2 linked regions of the Homo sapiens genome follow. The protein of the gene in region 2 binds, or shares a complex with, the protein of the main gene of each other region. Each region holds a gene or a part of one and is shown on either strand. Other genes may lie near its edges.

What was found. Proteins that work in one complex are often made in the same cells at the same time.
Region 1: the proteins of FMN2 (region 2) and SPIRE1 are in contact, whole or in part, in a crystal structure (PDB 2YLE), measured with the Homo sapiens proteins. Residues at the interface, in NP_064450.3 of Homo sapiens: Ser1702, Leu1703, Lys1705, Ile1706, Lys1707, Pro1708, Arg1709, His1710, Gly1713, Ile1714, Lys1715, Lys1717, Ile1718, Lys1721, Thr1722; in NP_001122098.1 of Homo sapiens: Gln51, Pro52, Ile53, Asn54, Glu127, Ile131, Tyr134, Lys135, Asp138, Leu141, Lys142, Glu143, Asn144, Glu145, Glu146, Arg147, Glu148, Glu154, Ile157, Asp158, Ala161, Asn162, Thr163, Val164, Glu165.

The regions. Positions count from the first base shown.
Region 1 is NC_000018.10:12,452,083-12,459,108, reverse strand, and holds part of SPIRE1 (protein spire homolog 1), read left to right. Parts: intron 1-4,625; coding exon 4,626-4,763; intron 4,764-5,970; coding exon 5,971-6,041; intron 6,042-6,596; coding exon 6,597-6,624; intron 6,625-6,665; exon of another isoform or gene 6,666-6,717; coding exon 6,718-6,854; intron 6,855-7,026.
Region 2 is NC_000001.11:240,094,862-240,101,887, reverse strand, and holds part of FMN2 (formin-2), read right to left. Parts: intron 1-7,026. UniProt on the Homo sapiens protein: Actin-binding protein that is involved in actin cytoskeleton assembly and reorganization. Acts as an actin nucleation factor and promotes assembly of actin filaments together with SPIRE1 and SPIRE2.

The DNA.
Region 1 (7,026 bases), on a different chromosome or scaffold from region 2:
ACCTTCACAATTCTACGTGAAATAAAAAGCTCTACGACCATATTGAAGCCTCTTCTGCCACCACGTAGCAGGTGCTCAGAGCAGCCTTTGTGCTACAGTAGGCAGGGCCTGGCTCTCTAAAGCCTTGGATTTACTAACCTTGTCCTTGACAGATGACCCCGCAGCTGGTTTCTTTGTTACTCTTTCTTAGTCATCTTGATATGGAAAGGAGACTCAATGTAAATAAGACACAAAACATTCCTTTCTCTGATCTTTGTCATGAAATGCAGGAAAAACCTCTGTCCTTTTTCCCGTTTTAGATGTGCTCTTGGGCAGCACGTGGTCAGGTGCCACGGTGGCTTTTTAACTCCTGTCACTCCTGCCTCTACTGAAGACCTGCTGGCATTTGATTATCAATTCTCCCCAAACAGAGATATCTGAACACTAAGGCCATATACCACTTTAGGCAAAGAAAGGATTCACTTTGAGTTTTGTTTGTTTGTTTTTGTTTTTTTTGAGATGGAGTCTCTCTCTGTCACTCAGGCTGGAGTGCAGTGACGCGATATCGGCTCACTGCAAGCTCCGCCTCCTGGGTTCACGCCATTCTCCTGCCTTAGCCTCCCGAGTAGCTGGGACTCCAGGCATCTGCCACCACGCCCGGCTAATTTTTTTTTGTATTTTTAGTAGAGACGGGGTTTCACCATGTTAGCCAGGATGGTCTCCATCTCCTGACCTCGTGATCCGCCCACCTCGGCCTCCCAAAGTGCTGGGATTACAGGCGTGAGCCACTGCGCCTGGCCTTCACTTTGAGTTTTGTAGTTGATTAAGAAGAGTAAACTTAATAGTTGCTGTTTTTATTTAAATTTGCCTCTCTTTGGTTTATTAAAAACTCAAAAAGCAATGGTTATTTTGGGTAATTTTCAAATACTGGTTAATTTATGAAGTTTTTACTAATCATGAACACTGTATAAAAGATGACTGTTCCCAGCCAGGCACAGTGGCTCACGCCTGTAATCCCAGCACTTTGGGAGGCCGAGGCGGGTGGATCATGAGGTCAGGAGATCGAGACCATCCTGGCTAACACAGTGAAACCCCGTCTCTACTAAAAATACAAAAAATTAGCTGGGCTCAGTGGCGGGCGCCTGTCGTCCCAGCTACTCAGGAGGCTGAGGCAGGAGAATGGCGTGAACCCTGGAGGTGGAGCTTGCAGTGAGCTGAGATCGCACCACTGCACTCCAGCCTGGGCGAAAGAGCGAGACTCCATCTCAAAAAAAAAAAAAAAAGAAAAAAGAAAAGAAAGGTGACTATTCCCATTTCTCTCTGTGGCACAATAACCAAAATTTTACATTATGCTGTCTAATCTCCGTGCTGCCTAACTGACCCCTCTTGAATGGTAAAATATAGCCAGAATAATCATCAAAAAAAAAAAACTCAACAATTTTAGTGACATGCATAGAAGTAAGTTTAAAGTCTTATAGCACATTGTTGTCTTCATTAAAGCGCTCTAAGATTTAGCTTCCCTTTCCTGAATCTGGGAGTCCCATTGACACATGAGCAAGCAAGGGAACTAGAGGTGCGCTAGTGTGGTTCTTTACCCGGCCACATCTGGCCACTCAAACGGGCCGAACACATGCAGTGGGAGCCCCAGGCAGTGCCGTGGTGGGGAAGGGCTCCCGCTCTAGCTGGGGCCTTGAGTGCCCTCCACATTCCAGAGTGCTAATAGCTCTGCGAGATCTGTGGAAGTTTAATTTGGCTTTGGAGATGTCGAATTAATATTTTTGTAAACTGAAAAAAATAATTAAAACTATTTTAGTAACTATTTATCATTTTCTTTTATGTTGCATTAAAGTTTTGTTGTCCTTGGGAAGTCTCCAAAATTAAAACATTAGCATTTGACTGGATGGAAATTATTTCACTAAAGGGTAATCTGCTTGAAAATTTTTAAAAAAGAACAAGAAAGCAAACAAAAATCTACTATTTTTAAATTATATCTCATGATGGCCAGGCGCGGTTGCTCATGCCTGTGATCCCAGCACTTTGAGAGGCTGAGGCTGGCAGATCACTTGAGGACAGGAGTTCGAGACCAGCCTGGCCAACATGGCGAACCCCCATCTCTACACAAAAATTAGCTAGGTGTGGTGGTGCACACCTGTAATCCCAGCTACTCAGGGGGCTGAGGCACAAGAATCACTTGAACCCGGGAGGCAGATGTTGCGGTGAGCCAAGATCATGCCACTGTGCTCCAGCCTGGGTGACAGAGCGAGACCTTGTCTCAAAACGAAAGAAAAATGATTATATCCCATGAAGTACTGGATTTTCATGTGGGTCAAAGCAGTGAGTTGAAAATATGCTTTACTAAGCCCATTTGTGACTCAAGACTGAAGACAGGGAGGTGCAAGCTGCCAGGTCTGTTGTGCCATGCTAGCGTATCCCTACAAATGAAAAAAATCACCATCTGCCTGAAGGGTTTACAGCCCAGTTATCCACATCATAAAGTCAGTTAAGTTGGTACCATCTGCTGTCTTGCTAGCACAAACAATAACAAATCTGGCTATCTGGTTATTTGCTACGTAATAAATCTAGTAGTGTTTCCCTGGTTATGTGCTAGATTCCCACATTATTTTGTTGCAGCATAGCCATTTTGTCATATCGTTAGCCATCAGAAGGCATACCCTACTTATACTCATCACTGATGAATAAAAATAAGAGCAAAACTTCTGAAATACATTAAAAGCTGAGAAATGCCATCATTCGGATGTATTCAGCCAACACTACTTACTTAGTGCACAGTTTTAATGGCCTAACCCTCAAAAAGGCCGTTTATTGTTCCCACCTAACACTACTCTTTTTCTGAGGATGGAGCAAAACAGAGTAGGTATCAGGCACGCTGATTTAATTCTGTCATCTCTGAAAGTAGTTCCTGTTGAAAGAGAAAACTGTGATCGTTAATTTTTTAAATGCGTATTTTAGGCATTTTAGAGCAAATGATATAATCTTTCTGAGTAAACTCATCCCCCTGTCCTCTTATACTAATAAGCTTCTCATGTTAAAAATTCAAATGCAGGATTTTTCCCAAAGCATTTTTAAGCAAATGTAATCTTCCTTAAGTTAGCTTGAACAGAGATGGTTTTGCATTGATTTTTAGTAAGAAGCAGTAGTTCTTCAGACTACTTTTTTAAGTAAAATGCTAATGTTTGACAAGTTTGCAACCTAGATTGATTTTTGTTTTTCTCTGATTGAAAGACAGAACTGATTGTTAAAACTCCATAAACTGACTGCATTCATAGTCATGTGCTTTCTCACTGGCGTGTTGGATTCCTGAGTGCCTGTGAGCGATGCTGTTGTGTGTGTGTGGGAGTGAATTATAATGTGTTTGTGCTGAGAACATTCAGTTTCAGTGTCACTGCACCACAATGGCCCCTTGCAGCCTGGCAGGGTCCGAATGCACAAGACTGTTCTGTCTTTCTCTGAGATCCACCAATCAAGTGCGGGGCCGGATGGGGAGCGGATGGGTGTGAGGCTCTTATTCAATGAGATCAGTTACATCAACATCTTCCGCAGCTGCTTGTAGGGAAACCATTAACACAAGACAGCCAACATAAATATTTATTATGAAATCTTTTACATTTCTCTAGTCTTTCCATTGCTGACTATACATTTAGCATTTGTTGAAAGTAACAACAAATCTAGAGAACTGTGGGGCAGCCTGGAGAGACTGCCTTTTGGATATAAATGCTCCAGTAGTTTCATGTTCCAGTTCCACTCGTACCATTAGGATTTGTAAAGGTGTGCTGATGTAACTGATCACTAAATAATGCTTGTCAGTAAAAATTACTAACCATCTTCTTTTGGCTATTCTGGGTACCACAAATGAGTTTTAAAAACAGGGCCAGGCCAGGCATGGTGGCTCACGCCTGTAATCCCAGCACTTTGGGAGGCCGAAGTGGGCAGATCACTTGAGCCCAGGAGTTCAAGACCAGCCTGGGCAACATGGTGAAACCCCATCTCTGCAAAAAATACAAAAAAATTAGCTGGGCATGGTGGCATGCACCTGTAGTCCCAGCTACTTGGGAGGCTGAGGTGGGAGGATCACTTGAGCCCAGGAAGTCAAGGCTGCAGTGACCCATGATCGCATCACTGCCCTCCAGCCTGGGTGACAGAATGAGACCCTGTTGTGGAAAAAAAAAAAAAGGACCACTGTAGATTTGCTTTTTATCTATTGGTATATAATGTACAACACAACACTAAGTAATGTCTTTTTCATAGGTGTAGAAGACAACTGACACAAAATTGGTTTAGAATAAAATTTTTTTCAAGATTTCAAGCCCTGCTTGAAATATTTCAATATAGCCCTGCTTAACGGAATAGAGTTACTTGAGTCAAAATACCTGAGCAAACGTGAGGAACTTTCATTTATTGGAAATTTCAGTAGATCACTTGGTCCCCACATGTTTTCTGCCATCTTTAGTCTTAGTGTAATTGGAAATGATGTGGTCCCCAGAGGGAGCCAGCTCTGCCCCAGTGGTCATTGGGAAACCTGTTCTCTTCTCTGAAGCTACTAATCAGGGGTCTGATCTGAAGGGAAATTTTGCACTTCCAGAACAGGGGGTAGGAATCTCTTATTCACGTGACATTTTGAATTTCAGGAGGAATTCTGCTACCCAGTGGAATGCCTCGCTCTTACTGTGGAAGAAGTGATGCATATTCGCCAGGTCCTGGTGAAGGCAGAGCTGGAAAAATACCAACAGTATAAAGACATCTACACCGCCTTGAAAAAAGGAAAGGTAGTGCTGTTTAAAGTTGATTGATCAGAAGAGTAGAAGGATGGCCAGTCCCATGCATAGTCTCCTGGGAGAGTTATCTGCTAGCCAGGTGGCACAGACTTTGAGGGGATTTGGGATGTGTGATGTTCATATCCTAGTAGACAGTACATGTGCTGTCTCGTTCACAAGAGGGGGCATTTTTGTTTCTGCCTTAGAAATCAAAACTGGAAGGTTTTCAAGCAACCATAACAAATATCGATATGTCTTCCTAAAACCATGCATGTGGCCAGGCATGGTGGCTCATGCTTGTAATCCCAGCACTTCGGGAAGCTGAGGCGGGCAGATCACGAGGTTGGGATATCAAGACCATCCTGGCCAACATGGTGAAACCCTGTCTCTACTAAAAATGCAAAAATTAGCTGGGCATGGTGGTGCGTGCCTGTAATCCCAGCTACTCGGGAGGCTGAGGTGGGAGAATCGCTTGAACCCAGGAGGTGGAGGTTGCAGTGAGCTGAGATTGCGCCACTGCACTCCAGCCTGGTGACATAGTGAGACTCCGTCTCAATAAAAAAGCCATGTGTGCATTTAGTCATTACACTTTTAAAGGATCTGTAAAGAAAATGTATCTGAGAAGGCCGGGTGCAGTGGCTCACGCCTGTAATCCCAGCACTTTGGGCGGCCTAGGCAGGCGGATCACAAGGTCAGGAGATCGAGACCATCCTGGCTAACACAGTGAAACCCCATCTCTACTAAAGATACCAAAAAATTAGCCAGGCCTGGTAGCAGGTGCCTGTAGTCCCAGCTACTCAGGAGGCTGAGGCAGGAGAATGGCGTGAACCCAGGAGGCGGAGCTTGCAGTGAGCCAAGATCATGCCATTGCACTCCAGCCTAGGCGAAACAGTGAGACTCCATCTCATAAAAAAAAAAAAAAAATGTATCTGAGAAACAGAGGAGGGTTTTTCAGAACCTTCTGCAGATTCCTTCCATGATGAGGAGACACTTAAGAGCTGTGGCCTTTTATTACCTTTTAAAATAGAATTATAATTAAATACAGAGCTACATTATCAGCATCACAGAGCCAGCTGTTATAAACAGGATTTCTGAATTGTCTTCCTCCTCTTGTCTGTTCAGCTTCCCCTATATATAGATGTAAAGCATATTCAAACATGGATATTAGGAAATTTGCTGTTGGCAATGTTTTTTTTCCTCTTAAATTTGTATTTTTTAGCTCTGCTTTTGTTGCCGAACCAGGAGGTTTTCCTTCTTCACTTGGTCTTATACCTGTCAGTTCTGTAAGAGGTAAGGTATTTTGTAATTGATGAAAAGATAAATTTAACAGTCGTAAGAGAAATACCAATTATCTTCCTTATTTCACCATCTTTCTAAACAGGAATAAAATTAGAAATGACTCACTCTGTTACGTTACCTTGTGCTATCCTTGTAGGTTAGGAATATTGATTTCTTAAGAGAGTGAGCCAAATATTTATTTGATATTGAACCTAGAAAATGTTTCTCTGTATGTTACTTCTTTTACATAACTAAGATCATTCTAATAATATGTCATGTTTGAACAGAAAAAAAATAAGATGTGATTATCATGTGATCCCTGGATAGACAAATAAGAAAATTCCAAACACATGTAAGTTGATCCTTTTATAGGAGACAGTGTAAGAGTTAAGTTCTGTAGATTATCTTTTTGGCAATTCAGTGTGTCAATTTGTTACATTCTAATAGAAGAAGGGAGAGTTATGCAGTTTATTGTGGAAACTTACAACTGTACTGCCATAGGCTTCTCTAACTCCCAGTTGCGTCCCCTGGTATCATGCCAAATAACATTTATGATTTTGTTTACAGGCCGGTGTGCTCACAGTGTTGCAAAAAGGTAAGCTAAGCTTGGTTCATTTATACTTGTGTTCCTTTTAGTGACTGCCTCTTTAACGGTACTGCTCATTGCCAGTTTTATTTGGGATAATAGATGCGGCTGCCCTCCAAACCATACTCCACTCTTCCTATCTTTTCATTGGGACCTTCTGCTCTGCAAAGAGGGGAAAGTAGTATGAGGTCAGAAAAACCCTCCACTGCCCATCATCGGCCACTTCGGAGCATTGCCAGGTGAGCAAGGGGCCTGGGTTGTCAAACCATCCTTTGCAGAAGAAGAGTTCTACTCTTGAGGACTGTGGTAGAGTGTTAGGGTTTTGGCTCGAGGGGTTTTTATTGGTTTGTTGGTTGGTTTTAATACAGTTTTACACACAAATCTCCAAAACTTCCCCAAAGGTAACTTTTC
Region 2 (7,026 bases):
ATTCTAAATCTTCGAGCCATACATTATATAACATAGCTTTCCATTTCATACATTTTCATAACACACGATCAACCATCATACATAATCATTATATCAGTGTTCAAAAACACAAGGCCCTATCGAGACCAGCCTGGGTAACATAGTGAGACCCTGTCTCTCCAAAAAAAAAAAAAAAAAATTAGCCAGGCATAGTGGCTCACGCCTGTGGTCCCAGCTATTCTGGAAGCTGAGGTGCTGAGGTGGGAGGATTGCTTGGGACCAGGAGTTTGAGGCTGCAGTGAGCCATGAGCACACCACTGCGCTCCCGCTTGGGTGGCAGAGCATGACCCTGTCTCAAACACACACACACACAACACAGACACACAGGCACACACACACATACACACACACACACACGGTCCTATTGTCAGATAATGACAGTCTAACCAATGCAAATCTCCTTCAGCATGAATCAAAAATTGATCAAAACTATCAAAGTCAAAACATCACCACTCTCACCATCAATTACTCCGTGGTATAAACGGGTCTTCCGGCATAGGAATTTTCTTCAGCTCTACCAATAAAGGAAAGCTCTAAATACACAGAGCATCCCTATTAGGGAGAAAAGGTACCTGCTGGAATCACCATATCTATAGAACCACAGTGCTGAAATTGACTTGAAGGAAGACGCTTCCCAGCAAGATTGCATTCACTCTTCCAATCTGGGAAGCCAGGGTATTAACAAGAGGCAAGAAATGATTGCCTTGTGCCCTAATAGGAAGCTGGTGGTAAAACGGAAAAGGGAAATAGATTGTTCTCAGCCTGCACTCTTCCCATAGTGCTGACACTAGCTTACTGAAACACATTCTTTCCCCTCCTGCGTACCTAAAACAACCATTTAAATGACACAGAATTTCTTCCTGTATGTGTCCACTCTATCACCAGGTACTACAACAAAGAACCCTTCTGCATGAAGTACAAAAAAAGACTCAACTGAGTAGTGCCTAAGCCTTTTTAAGCATAATTTTGAAACATAATATAGGCTTGATTTTCTCAAGAAAGTATTCCATTCCTCCTGAAAACAATAGGACTGTTTTCAGTCCATTGCAGCTCTAGGGTAACAGATAATAAAGCTTCCAGTGGGTTCCTGGTAGGTTGGAGCCTGACTGGATCACAGAATAGAGGCAGTAATTTTCCTATCCAATCAACACTTCCAAGTACATCTTTACAAAGGAAGAAGACATAAATTCTTCCCTCCTTCTCACCCATAGTGGAGCAGTAGGTATCAAAAGGATAATAAATCTCTAGTGTGGTTAGCATCTTATTATAGCATCCAGAAATAATTGTTACTCATTCTTAGAATTTTGATGTTATGACTACCTTGCTTTACTACCATTCCGAACTGACTGAGGTCATATTTTCCATATATTTTAAGATAAAAAAGCCTTAGAAAGTTTCTACTGTCACTAAAATGATATCTAATAACTATCAAGTCACAGGCAGTACATTTTTGTTTCTTCCTAATGGTTCCTTAATGCTAACTTTTATTAGCATTAGGTTAGTACTTAGAATACAAAACAGGAATGAACAGAGGAATACAATTTTCTCTATTCCCTTTACCTCTTCTTTCATTACAATAACATTTATATTTGGAAGGTCAGTTGCTGTAATGTCATTACTATTTTAACATTAACCTGCAGAAACAAGAATAGCTATTCTTCTATCAACATAAGTTCTATAAAGTATCATTGATTCAATCACACCTCATTGAAAATAATTAATTTTGACTGCCCAGAAAGGTTAGCAATTTTCCAGCTTCAATTCAACTAGTTTTAATTGCCAGTAGGAAGCCTGGATACTCAACTTGTCTATATCACTGCCAAAAATGGTGAATGAGCAAGTATTCATCAAGACCTCAGTACAGTCGGTGCTTTACACATATTGACAGGCACAGAGCAAGGCACGGAAGAGATATCTGTGGACAGATTAGTAGGAGAGGAGATGATGGATGGATGGAATCGGGTGAACAGGCAAGGAGGAAGGAAAGGCAGAGGGTGGCAAGAAAGAAGACCAGAAGAATCCCTAAATCCAAGAAGCATATATAATATGATCTAGACAGTAAAGTACAGAGAAAGTGAGATGACAGCCAGTAAGGTCTGGCTGGAAAAGATACAAAGAGGAAACGGAATTCAATCAGCACTTTTCAAATGCTAAAGCAAAAGAGACGAATCATGTATTCCAAGAGGGTAAAGCTGCAAGACAAAGGCACAAAGTCGGGAAAATGAAATGCATGTTCATAAAACAGTGTAAAGTAGAGCATTTATGAAGGAGACCGTGGGAAGGTAAAGCTGCAAAGTCAGGGGTTTGCAGCCAGATGCTGTGCAGAGCAGAAACACTGAGGGTGTCAGCTACCGCCTCCTCTTCCCACCCCTTCTTTGGAAAGCAGCACCCTCCCCCAAATCTTACAGCCACACCCCATCATATGCTTTTCTTATCCAACCCCCCACCACAGAATATCTGATAAGTGACAAAATGCTTACAATTCCAGAAAAAAAAAAGAAAAAATAATACATAAACAATTTGCAAAAAAAAACAAAACAAAACAAAACTGGGGCTCAACTAGTATCTGGTCAGTTCATATCCTGCTAAGTTTTGTATACAATTTCAGGGTTGTTTTAACAAATTTGGCTCTGATCACTTTGAACAATGACTTTTTTTTTAAGATAATAAATCCAGTCAGGAGAGCAAATAGCCCCAGTTAAGTGCCTCTCATGTACCAGGCAGAATTGTAGGGGCTTTATGTATGCTATTTCATTTCATCTTAATAGTATTAATTTGAAATTATTCTTCTACCTTCATAGATATGAGGAAAAATTACTGGAGACTCACTTAGCTAAACAGCAAAACTAGGATTGCAAATATACCTAGAATAAACGTAGTTAGAATAACTACTGCTACCTTCATCCAACTGTATATTTTCTGTATCTTTTCAGAAGAATCAGAAGGAAAAGCACTAAAAGTACCTGCTCCATTTCAAATACGCATGGCTTATATCCAAACGCCTAAAGCTCTTAAAACTAGGCCCATCCTCAACTCATAAAGCAGTCATTAAAACCCATCCCTGAAGCTACTGGTGCACTTGACTTCAATCCAAACCACAGGCCTAAAGAAACCATGAGAAAGGATGTTTCAGACCCATCTAAAATGATTGAAGATCAGTGTTCTGGTCCCCGCTTACATCGCCAAATTCTTCTCTGATATATGGAACCCAGTAAGGCAGTATTTAGGGGAAAGCATAGCATTCATATAAACCCCTTTCCTTTTATAATAAGACATTTTATACGTATCAGGCAGATTCTGACCTTCATTCGTCAGACATTAACTGGACATCTATACTCTGTCAGGGGCTCTGCTGGAAATCAAACTACTCCTGGCCTTAAAAAAATCCAATGTAGCAATTTACCAAGCCGTATGAGAAAATGTGTACTCCTAGAGTGGGTTCTTCCCTCTACTGATATAAAAATCAAGATAGGCCTCCTAGCACTTGGGGAGGCCAAGGCAGATAGAACACCTGAGGTCAGGAGTTCAAGACCAGCCTGGCCTACATGGTGAAATCCTGTCTCTACTAAAAATACAAAAATTAGCTGGGTGTGGTCATGGGCGCCTATAATCCCAGCTACTCTGGAAGCTGAGGCAGGAGAATTGCTTGAACCCAGTGGGCGGAGGTTGCAGTGAGCCAAGATCACGCCACTTCATTCCAGCCTTGGCGACAAGAGTGAAATCTGTCTCCAAAAAAAAAAAAAAAAAAAAATTCAAGATAACCTTTAGAAAGGCCAAAATCAGAGTTGCACAATCCAAGTTCTAGAGCCTATGCACTTTATTAATTAGCTAGTCCTCCAAAAGCTCAATGATCTACTTGGTTTCATCTTATACATATTAACAACAGATTTGGTTTTCTAAGGACATATCCTGGATGGGCCACTTACTAGCTTAATGCCCTTAGACAAGAAGTTACTTTACTGTCTGAGCCTGGGTTTTTTCATTCGAAAAATGAGGATAAACAGCTACACCTCAAGACTGTTGTTAAGGATTACAGATAGTTATGTAATGCACCAACAGAGTCTGGCACTTAGAAGTACAATAAGTGTAACCAATATCATAATTACAGGAATTGTAAGCCAATTGCAAATTGATCAGAAAAGTCAAATTACAAAAAAATTGAGGGACAGGAGCAAAGAGACTAAAGACAGCTATAGCCGGGCGCGGTGGCTCACGCCTGTAATCCCAGCACTTTGGGCGGCCGAGGCGGGCGGATCACGAGGTCAGGAGATCAAGACCATCCTGGCTAACACGGTGAAACCCCGTCTGTACTAAAAATACAAAAAATTAGCTGGGCATGGTGGTGGGCGCCTGTAGTCCCAGCTACTCAGGAGGCTGAGGCAGGAGAATGGCGTGAACTCAGGAGGCGGAGCTTGCAGTGAGCAGAAGTCGTGCCACTGCACTCCAGCCTGGGCAACAGAGCGAGACTCTGTCTCAAAAAAAAAAAAAAAAGGCAGCTATAACAATAAATAGCTGGCAGCAAGAAAACAATCAAGAAACTACACAGACACAAAAACTCAGAAACTACAGACTGAAGCCAACAGCCCACACACTTCAATAGCTGTTGAGGACATCACTAATGTTTTTATAAGATGTAACAATGATGTGCCTGAAGATGACATTAAGCCCTTTAAAACAGATTAAACTTTTATTCCATGTGTTTAAAAAAAAAGATAAGCACATAATTGACTTGGGAAAGATTCCTATCAAAAGCGATTTAGCATCACAAATTTAACACGTTGGATATCTAAACTTTAATTAACTGCAAAACTCCAGTACCAAGCTTCTGTTATACTTAATATGTAAAGGAACCTCCCGAATTTCAGACGCCATTTTTTCTACTAAACACTGAAAAAGATGTATTTCAAACACATTAATTATGAAATACTTAAATGCAATGGCCTAAGGCATCATCAGTTTCTTAATAGCTAAAACAAGATAAAGTTTGGTCTCCCTCATTGCTAAATGTTTTTAGATCTACCAAAGAGACACAGACATGTGCCATAGAAATCCCTTTTCACTTGTATTTTCTCCCTACATTTGGAAGGCGGTAAAAAGCGAAAAACATCTGTTTCTTCCTGTAATGCTGACAACCCTCATTCTATGGTTTAAAAATAAAAGATGCTTATGGAAGCTTATAGATATAATGATCACCTGCTTCAAAGGCAGCTGGCAATTAATTGATCCAAATACATGCAAAATTAAGGCCAAAAAGAAATTTCCCTAAGGACAATGCCAGTGTTCCCCAAGCCTCTGGTAATTTCCAAGACACCCGTAAAAAAATAGCAGAGGAGAGTAAAGAAGCAAACGTAGTGGCAGATGACATGAAGAGTTGACAGCTGAGACACAAGGGCCTGTGTCAATCTGGATTCATTTGACCACCATAAGAACAGTTTCCATGAGAGCTGCTTAGAGAAAATCTGGTTCACTCTGGCCAACAATCACCCTTCATCCAGCTCAAGGAAGGCCAGATGTTCAACCATTAAAGGAGGACACCTTATTAAAAACAGGAACTGGAAAATCTAATTAAAGAAAGGCCCTAAATCTGATCACATTTTTTATAAACAGTTTTTACTCTCTATATGGCCTTAAAACATTGTATATCCAAACAGAAATAATAATGACATTAGACTTGATTCATTGACTCAGTTTCTATTTCTGGATCTGCCTCTGAATGAATCACAGTGTGACCTTGAGAAAGTTATTTCACCTCTTTCTCTATCTACATTTTCCCACCAGTTACAAAGTTAGGTAAAACCTACTGATCCTCTTTTCCTGAACAATGCTGAGTGAATGACATAAACATACGGAAGCTGCTACACAAAAATATATTTGCTGATTACCAACCAGCTGTATCCAACCATCAAATACAAAATAGGTGATGTCCTTATAAAAACGACTAGCTCTGCAATTTTACTTTGCACAATTTAAAAAACAAATCACCTGGAGAGGTCAACAAAACCCAGGTGGTTCCTATACAGGACTCTTTTAAGAGTCCCAAATTTCAAATTTGGGAATACTTAGCAAATTAAACTAAAATGCAAGTTCCAAGAAGACACTTGTTTTTTTAAAGGAAAACAAACATTCAACCTATTTAGGGTCTTGTGATCTTCCAGGACTCTGTTCAATCCTCCTCTCTCAAGTCCTCTTCCCTCACCCCTTGCCACCAAGCAGATAAGCCACTGCATCCGTGATGTTCCCAGCAGTGATTTGCATGTCTATATCTATACAGATATTTCTGTGCACTGCACTTATGTCATGTCTCCTCCTCACTAGTCAGCGAGCCTTAGAAAGGCAAAATCATGATTTAATGGTCTATGTATCACCTACATCTAGAATACTGCCTAGCACAGTGTGCTACTATTTAGAATACTGCCTAGCACAATGTGGCTGCTCAATGTGTGTGTGTGTGTGTGTGTGTGTATGCACATATATGCTTACAAATGTATATACATATATATATTTGCTAAATGAATGAAATAAATAAATTTCCAAAGTCTTATGCTAGTAGGAATAGCTATCATTAATATTAATGATTGATAATCATTATGGTGAATTATTTTCACTTTTCAAAAACTATATACGTGAATGTCACTTAGATAAAGAGAAAATATGTGATTTCTTACCAACATTAAATTCACAAAAATTAATGCAAAAACTTTCCAATCTTCTTCTATCAAAAGTGATCTTTCTTTTTTATTTGTTTTGCATTTTGTTTTTGTTTTTTTACAATTTATCTAGTGGGTATAAAACTACAAACATTCTTTTTAACAATCTACACAATAAAGAGAAGGTGGAAAAGAAGAAAAATAAGAGTATGTGAAATGAATGGAAGAAGCTACTTTTAAGGGTAAGACCCTATAAGGGCAAAATAAAAGGTGGCCCACAGATGAAAATTAAAATGTGGTCAATAAAAGTAGCTACCCCAATATTACCAGCATTTAGTCA